Linked DNA regions of Homo sapiens: region 1 is reported to be linked to region 2. The links are microRNA targets in miRTarBase. Many come from high-throughput screens and were not tested one by one. Region 2 holds a microRNA gene; the other region holds the end of a gene's coding sequence.

Region 1 (4,136 bases), not on the chromosome of region 2:
GGGTCATTAAAAAACCCAATCCACTAGCTGCTATGTAGGGTAGAAAGCAGTCCAAGTACAGTGACTAGCTATGGGGCAGTTGCAGTTGATCAGGAAAAAGGCTCTAGGTAGAAAGACATGTGGACACAAGTTCTAGGACTTGAGAAGGACTGCTGATTTGATTGTATGAGATGTACAATAGACAATTTGAGGCCAATCGCTAAGTTTACAGCTGGGGGGAAGGGTGCCAGTAACCAAGTCGGGGATCAGTAGGTCCATAGTCAACCGGAGATGGACTCCCCCTTTGCTTTAACAATCGAACATATACTGTGAGCCGGCCATTAAGAGATGATACCAAGATTATGCATCAAGTTATAAAGCAGTCCTTTCATCAGATGGTAAATTCTTATTTCATCTCCATTTTCTTCCAGTCCTTAAGGGAAAGAAGTTAAGTCTTCCAATGCCAATCTGAGGACCTTCAGAGACAGTCTACGCCTTAACAAGCACATGAAGGAAACTATTTTGAATGTTCTCTTTGGCAACTTATCCATAATTTGGGATCAAATGTTAAAACCAGAAAAGTGTTTAGTGTGGATTTCAGCAAAACCTGATCATCCCACCCAGAAGACCTTCTCATCAATAGATCGCCCTTAAAGACCCATTGTAAGGTCATAAAAAACCTCGGCCACCTGCACAAAGATGGTGCCTCACTGCAACAAGAAACCTTAAGGTGTCTTACCGACGAAATAAAAAACATAAATGATTGTTCTCCAAGGCCTGAGGGCAAGACTCATGATGAGCAAGTCAACCCCAATCTGGAACAATGTCCCTCCTCTTAGAATGTCCCAACTAAAGACCAGTTAAAATATTAGGGTACGTTCTTGTGAATTTCCACTTTCCAGGTAGATGACCAAATTTAGGTGGTCAAGATATAAAGGTGTCAGCTAGTTTTAAGTGTGAAACTTATTTCACTTTCACACTGCCTTCAGGCCAGAAGCAAACCAAATTTACCAGGTTTGGCTGGAGGAGTTTTGTGACTCATCTTTTACTGGTTTGAATTTTTTCAAACCAGTGGCTGATACCTGCCTTGTACTTAGTACCTTAATACCAATAACCTAATGGTACTTAGGCGAGTACCATTTGCACAATCACTGTTTTACTTATGAGCAGATACAGATATATCCAAACCCTTACCTACTAGGTATCCTGCTAGGGTTTTCAATTCCAATTCTTGTATTAAGTTTTTTCCTTTCAGTTTTAGGTGCGAAAGTAATCAGTCAATCCAATATCCCCCATCTTTGTCTTGAAACAAAAACTGTTTTAAGACGTCTACGTTGAATTATTCAGAGAATTAAGCAATAAAAGCTCACACCTTATTGTCAACAGTGTTTTTATTTATACCTACAAAAAGAAAACAAGATGATGGTATCAAAAGGACAATTTACAAACTAAGAATAGTAACATAGCTTTCAGCATCCTGTGCCTGAACATCACACATCTACAAGTCTTTCAAGTCTTAATGCAACAGGAATGTGTCTGGAGACCAGCAAGAACATCAATAGAGAGCACTGATCCCAAGCAAAAGCCACTAACCTTTTAGATGAGAAGTCCACACAACGAATTGTTAGGGAGGATTGGGGAGAAGCAGCCCATTGCTTAATACATTGGAACCCTTTCCCTAAGTTGAGTTTCAACCATGAATGCAATAACTAGCATAAAACGATTCTTCTGCTCATGTTCTGAAGCCAACAGCAGAACCTGAATTATAAGTGACAGACATGGAGGCAGAAGAGTTAAACTCTGCTAGATTTCAGCTGTGCTCAGGCCATAATAGTTTTTGAGGTTTGGAATTTACTGTTATTTTATGATTACAATGTCCCAGGTGGAAAAAGGGAAGCAAGCAATCCAAATAACCACTTGCTTGCCCAGAGACCTTTCCCTCAAACAGATGCTTTCAAGAGCTGCGAGAGAGTAGGGCATCCCTTGTGGTGGTACCTCTATGTTTAAAGAAAGAAGAAAAAAACCCAGAATTTGGTTGTAGAAAACAATGCCCACAACAGACTGGCCAGTGCTTAGACAAATTTGGGGTTGGGGGGAACACTTTGGTTTGAAAGCACAGAGCAGTTTGCCATGTTTCTTCTGTGCCTACCATTCTCCCTTGGCCTCAACTTCTGTAAGATGGGGGGGGGACAAAAAGAGAAGTAAAGTTAAGAAGAAAGTGGAAAATTAAAAAAAAAGATGTCAAAGTTTTTACATGCATATATTTCAGCTTATGCTGAAGACCTACCTGTATGTTGCACATTGAATCATACTTTCAGAACCCCTCAGAAACCATCCCTCTCTCCCTAAAGAATTTTAAAAGGAAAACAAAACCTCGAGTATAGATCTTACAGATGAGCAAGCATTCAGGCCTTAGCCAAAGAATGCAGTGGAGCCTTCCCCCTTCAACTGCATTGTGAATGAATACCAATTAACAGCATAAAAATTAATAGTCCCATATCAGATCTGGAAGGGGTTTCTGGGGCTGTCTGATGTCCCTATCCTGTTGTAGTGAACACAATAGCAGAAAATTCTTTCTGGGTCCATCTGCTATAAAGTCTTGGTAAAACAGCATTACCATGAAGAGGATGAACTCACCTACCTTCAGATGGAGGAAAAGTGAAAAGGACTTAGGCTTTAGTCCTCCATGACTTTTCTTAAGCACTACCTACCTGTAATAAGCTGAGTGCAAAAGGATGCCGAAGAAAATCTGCACCCAGAAGCTGTTAGAAAGCACTGCAGAGAACAGGGTATGAAGAAAATAAAGAGTTCTTAATAAACCCTTAAGATTCTTTGTTCAAGGTAACTTTGCCAAAAGGGCAGAGTAGGTGGCAAAGAGTTGCTTTTAATCTAGCTCTACACTGCATTTGAAAATAAAATTTGCCCATTTTGAATATATTGTTTATAATTAAATGTGCTTTTTACACTGCAGGTCAATATAAAAACTGGTTAGTAAATTTCCAGCGAGCATTTATGTTCATTTGCTCACAGCAGCTGTCTGGATGGAAAATTAATTTCACAGATGGTCCCCAGTTAAACTGGGAAGAAATATAGGCAGCTTCCACCCAGATGCTGAGATGCTACAGTTTAACCACTACAATAAACACTTGTGGTTTTTAATTTAAAGGATACACAAAACTCAGCAATTCAATTTCTAGCCTGACACTAAAATGGTTATTTTTCAGTAACGGGGGGAGAAGTGGGGAGGCAGAGTGTGAAGGGAAATAAAACCAATTAGTAATTTTTAACTATCAAATGCACTCCAGCAATCAGTCAAAACAGGCCCGAGGAAACCTGTTCCAACTTAAGAAACATTTAAAAGCACAAAAGAAAATGTGCAGGGCAATCCCTCTTTGTTTTCTAACCCAGTAATGAGAAATTTAAAGCACAGATGCCATCTTCCTCTGCAAAACAATTCAGCCCTCCCCCTCCCTCCCTCCCCACCAACTCAGAAAAACAAAACATGGGGCTCCCACAAAAGGGCCTAATACCTTACTCTTTTAGATGAAAAATAGCTCAAATATCTTCAACATGCAAGAAGTTGGGGGAAGAAATTAATCTCTTCCAGTCAGCTATATATATATATATATATTTTTTTTTTTTTTACAAAATGTTATTCCAGACTGGATCATTTTGGTGGGCAGAAGAAACCTGGCAGTGAATTCTAACTAATCTGCATGAAAAGACAAATCACGATGGTTGGGGGGAAAAATTAAAAAAAAAAAAAGAAAAAAGGAAAAAAAAAGAAAAGGCGAAGAGGAAAAAAAAAGGAAAGACAGTGTTCCTTAAAATGTAATTAAGTCTGCTGGAGTCACTACCACTTGAGTGGTTTCATTTACGTGAAGGAGGAGGAGGGGGAGGAGGAGGAGGGTATTGGTAGGCAGTCTGCCCCATGTAACCTATCATATTGGTAGCTCCCGGAGGCTGTGCAAACTGTTGTGACATCAGTGGCTGTGGCTGCTGCCCAGACCGGCCTATCCCACTAAACTGCTGGCTAGAGCTCTGTGAACTTCTCCCAGTTGAGGTGGTGCTACTAGCTCCATAAGTGCCAGCACCATATTCTTGAGCTGTATAGCTACTGGTGCCATAAGCAGCTGCCCCATAGGTGCCTTGACCAT
Region 2 (4,266 bases):
AGAAGTTCGAGCAGGTCACTGGAGCCGGAAAGTGCGTCCTGATTGGAGGACTCAGTGACCTCCGCCTGGAGGAGGGGAGGGGGGCAAGGAGGGATGGAGGGGTCAGCACCTAGGCCTCCCTTCAACTGCTCTTACTGGTTGTGGGGAGAGGCACATCCAACCCCAGTGGTCTCTGCTCCCCACTTCGTGACAGTAGGGCCAGGCTGAGAGAGAAGAAAGCTGGCGAAGAGTGGGGATGTGAGGCCAGACCCTTTCCAAGTGACAGATGCTCTCTCAGAAGTTATTGAGATGTCCTCACCACCTGTCAGACAGACAGGACTGTCCCTTCAAAGAGGAGGTAGCCAATTTCTGCCTCATTCAGAAATTCAGCTGGGGACTCCCTCCACCTCCTGGAGGCTGAGACGCCAGCCTGGCAGAGACAGCAGGCAGCACAGGGTGGCAGAGGGGCGGGGCTGGGGTGGGGGCTGGCAGGCAGACGCAGGGGTCAGTGCTCACCAGTCTGGCCTCTGGCTCAGCAGCCTCCGCACTGGGAGGTGGGGGCCCGGCACTGCTCCCAGGGCCTCCTGCAACAGCAGCCCCCTCAGCACGGGGGAGCTCCTCCAGCTGCAGCAGATTGAGCTGGAGTGGAGAGCTGCATCTCGAGTTGAACAGTGGAGAGTCCGGGCGGTGAGGAGGACTCGGGGCGAGGGCGGGCAAGGATGGAGAAGGGGAGTGCGAGGCAGGAGTGGGAGGCCCTTCAGCAGGGGTCTGGAGTGCCCCATAAGGATAGCTGGATGGGGTTGGGAACAGATAGTTAGGGAGCACCAAGGCCACCATTGGGGTCACCAAAGGGGCGGGGAAAGCAGCTGGGGGCACAGATGTGGGAGCAGGGGGAAGAGGCTGGGGGCCTCCTCGAGGAGAGAACACTGGGAGAGGGTAGGGCTGGACAACCGCTGGGAAGGGGGTAGTGGCTGGTGGGGTGGGCCAGGGGGTGGAGGGTGGCACGGGTGAGGGGTGTGAGACATAGCAGGGCGCTTCAGCCCGAGGGTTCTGGTGGTGGCGTGAGCGCTTGGCTTTGGATCGGCAGTGGTGTCGGCGGCTTGGGGGTGCGGGGCCGTGGTGGCAGCCTGTGGGGAGAGACTAGGGTTAGCAAGGACCTCAACCTGGGGTTAGTACCCCTGCTACCCACACTGCCCTGACACGCTGACCAGGGAGAGGACAGGCCAAGGTCCCAGAGAGAGCTTCTCAACCCACACAGAACGGGGGACTCAGGAGGTGGGGCACCTTCAGGGAAGAATCACAGGAGCCAGGGACAAGGGGATTTATTGAGAAAGGAACAAGGCCAGGGAGAGGTTACACGAGGGGTCGAGCTGGGGGTGTGCGGAAGATGGAGGCATGCTGGCAGATGGAGGAAGCAGGGTGAGTCCATGGACACATGGACAGATGGCTCTGGTCCGCCAAACTCCTGTGGGCACTGCCAGCCTAGGCATTCCTCCTGCCCATCGAGGCCGTATTCTGCCTAGCTTGCAATGGAGTGAAGAGTGGGGCTGGAAAGCCCAGTCCTGAGTCCTGCGTCTGCCTGCAGGGGATCTCCCTCAGGCACCTGGAGGGGCTGCCTTCCACCTGCCCTTGAAGCCCAGACCCCACCCAGAGTTGGCCCAGAATCTATGCATGTCTCTTCATCAGTGACAACTGACTCCTAAGTGGGCATACTTCCTGCCCCTGCCCCCAGGCTAGGCCTGAAGTCGCTTACCTGGAGACAGCACCTCTGCCTGCCCATCCCAGTGCCATCCCCCCAGGCTGCCCTCCTCTGGCTGCAGCCCGGAACCCCATCCTAGTGGGGAGAAGCTAGCGAGGGGCCTGTCCCTAGGCAGGGCCTAGTGGTGGAAGCAACACCAGCCTGGGTCCCTGGAGCAGAAACACCTCCCTTAAGACCCACCCCCCAACAATCCAGTCCTAGACTGGGCAGAGGGCAGGCTCCAGGAGGCCCCAGGTGGCTACCTCGCTCGCCAAGGGCTGAGGGAGCTGTGGAAGAGCTGTCGAGTCCACGCAGCCTGCCCAGGTCTCGGAAGCGGCTGAGGAAGGCTTGCTCTTCCTTCTGTGTGTGCAGGGACAGCACGGCCTTGGTCAGCCCCACTGGACGGTAGGCGTCTGGGGCTGGGTCAGGGGCTACTGTGGGGCTGGGGGCTGGGCTGGGGGCTGGGCCTGGGGCTAGGCCAGGCAGGTCCTCCATCATGATGATGTCTGAGGAGAGTGAGATAGGGAAAGGTCATCAGAACCACTTCAGGGGTCAACACATCCATACCACACCCTCCCTGTCTGATAGCCTAGCCAACCCCTGGCAGCTCTGCCCCACAGCCAAGCCTGGTCTCCATGTACGTTTCTTGGTCACCTCTCTGCCAACGGCTGGCCCTGGGTCCTCCTCTCCATGCAAAGCTGGCCCAGAAGAAGAGACGATACTCAGGCCCCTCCAGTGGCCACTCCCTGCCAGGAACTCTACTGGGATGACCCCGTCACAACTCTCATTGGAAGAGAAGCCCACCCCTTGGCCTTCCCTCACACATTTTCTTGTTTCTTTTTTTTTTTTTTTTTGACATGGAGTCTCACTCTTTCTCCCAAGCTGGAGTGCAGTGGTGCGATCTCAGCTCACTGCAACCACCACCCCCTGGGTTCAAGCGATTCTCCTGTCCCAGCCTCCCGAGTAGCTGGGACTACAGGCGCGCGCCACCACGCCCGGCTAATTTTTGCATTTTTAGTAGATACAGGGTTTCACCATGTTGCCCAGGCTGATCTCGAGCTCCTGATCTCAGGTGATCCTCCTACCTCAGCCTCCCAAAATGCTGGGATTACAGGCCTGAGCCACCATGCCCAGCCCCTCATGATTTTCAAGGTCAATATCCAAAGACCCTTCAGGGATGTTCAATTTTCCTTGCCTTCAGACCCTGTGTGGTCAGCACCTCAGGGCAAACCCTCTATCCCAGACTCTGTGTTTCAACTGACAGTAACAATACGAGAAGCAGAACAGGGGAAGGGCAAAGCCGAGAAGCCTGGCAGGGAGGGGAGAGCAAGAAGCAGTAGCCCCAAGCCCCAGGTCAAGGGAGGCCTCCTTCTCTCCATCAGGCCCTAGAGGGGAGGGGAAAGGCAGGAGGGAGCTCTAGCTGGGAGACCGGTGGAGCCCAAGCACTGCCCCCCAATTCCACACCCATACCCGACTCCGGGGGCTTCTTGTCTCCCACATGGACGATGGTGGAGCTGAAGCTACACTGACTGGTGACGGACACCACACTCTCCGCCTTATTGGCCAGGGCGAGCGGGCTCAGGGTGCCTCCCACCACTGGCTCCTTCCGTGGGGTGGCCCCCTCCCCAGACAGCGCTGCTGACGGCGGATCTGTGCAGAGAGATGGTGCCAGTTACCATCCCCACCCCCACTGGGAAGTCAGGAGAGAGGATCCCAGGGAAAAGGGGAAGGGGATGGTGGTAGGGAACAGAGGGAACAGTCTGGAGACCAGGAGGCTGGGGAGGAGAGCAGGGCAGAGCAAGAGGGCCCAGAAGCAGAAGGGAAAAGACACAGGGCCACCAGGCCAGGACGGGGCAGTGGGAGCAGGGTGCATTGGATCTTTACCTTTCTTGGTCCCCACAGAGACTGGACCTGTCCTCTGCCTGTCGTCGTCAGAGGCTGAGGAGGTGGTATAGGAGGAGGAGGAGGCACATTTACGCTTAGTGGTGCTGGGGAGGTTGCAGCTCTCCAGGTACCTGGGGATGGACACAGCACAGGGCATCAGAGCAGGGCTTGGGGTGGGCAGGGTTAGAGCCCGAGGTGGAGAAGATGCCTGGCAGGCCTTACCTGAGGATGCTGTCCAGGCAGTTGATCTGCTGGTAGGAGCAGCTGGAGGCTTCTTTCCTCTCGGCCTCCTCAGGGACCAAGGCTAGTGGGGCCTGGACGGGAGCAGAACCCGCCTCCAGCTCTGGGTCTGGGGATTGGCAGGGAAGGGCCTTGGCCTTGAACGTGCCTGTAGCTGGGGCAAAGAGAGAAAGAGGAAAATAGCCTTCTCAAGCTCACATGGAAAAAAACAGCAAATGGGTTGGGGGTGAAGGTCAGGGGACCCCCCAGGTCTGTCTCTTCACCCACACATCATCATCAACTCACCAGGGAGGCGGGGCCGGGACTGAGGCCGGGCCCGAGACTCAATAAAAAGCTGCTGGCCCTGGTGCTTCACCAGATGCACATCCTTACAGATCTGCTGGAAAGTCACCTGTGGGACACAGCACCACAGTGAGCAGAACCAG

The links. The annotated mature microRNA hsa-miR-6883-3p reads UUCCCUAUCUCACUCUCCUCAG and lies in region 2 at 2,224-2,245, opposite strand. An mRNA with a match to its seed (bases 2 to 7 or 8) in the 3' UTR can be bound and repressed. Matches are read on the target gene's strand: a 7mer-m8 pairs with bases 2 to 8, a 7mer-A1 pairs with bases 2 to 7 and ends in A, and an 8mer does both.
Region 1: the mRNA of DDX17 is a reported target of hsa-miR-6883-3p. Seed matches in the 3' UTR shown: 7mer-m8 at 2,514-2,520 and 7mer-A1 at 1,654-1,660.

Annotation. Positions count from the first base shown.
Region 1 is chr22:38,482,086-38,486,221 of GRCh38, forward strand. DDX17 (DEAD-box helicase 17) reads right to left here. Exons shown (of 13, transcript NM_006386.5): 13 at 1,353-4,136. The coding sequence ends at 3,850. KDELR3 (KDEL endoplasmic reticulum protein retention receptor 3) reads left to right here. Exons shown (of 5, transcript NM_006855.4): 5 at 411-1,362. The coding sequence ends at 451. Among named protein-coding and RNA genes, the nearest start is that of KDELR3, 16 kb to the left of the region's middle.
Region 2 is chr17:8,142,771-8,147,036 of GRCh38, forward strand. MIR6883 (microRNA 6883) reads right to left here and starts at 2,301; the gene lies at 2,224-2,301. PER1 (period circadian regulator 1) reads right to left here. Exons shown (of 23, transcript NM_002616.3): 14 at 4,127-4,232; 15 at 3,824-3,995; 16 at 3,602-3,732; 17 at 3,188-3,367; 18 at 1,981-2,223; 19 at 496-1,106; 20 at 1-65.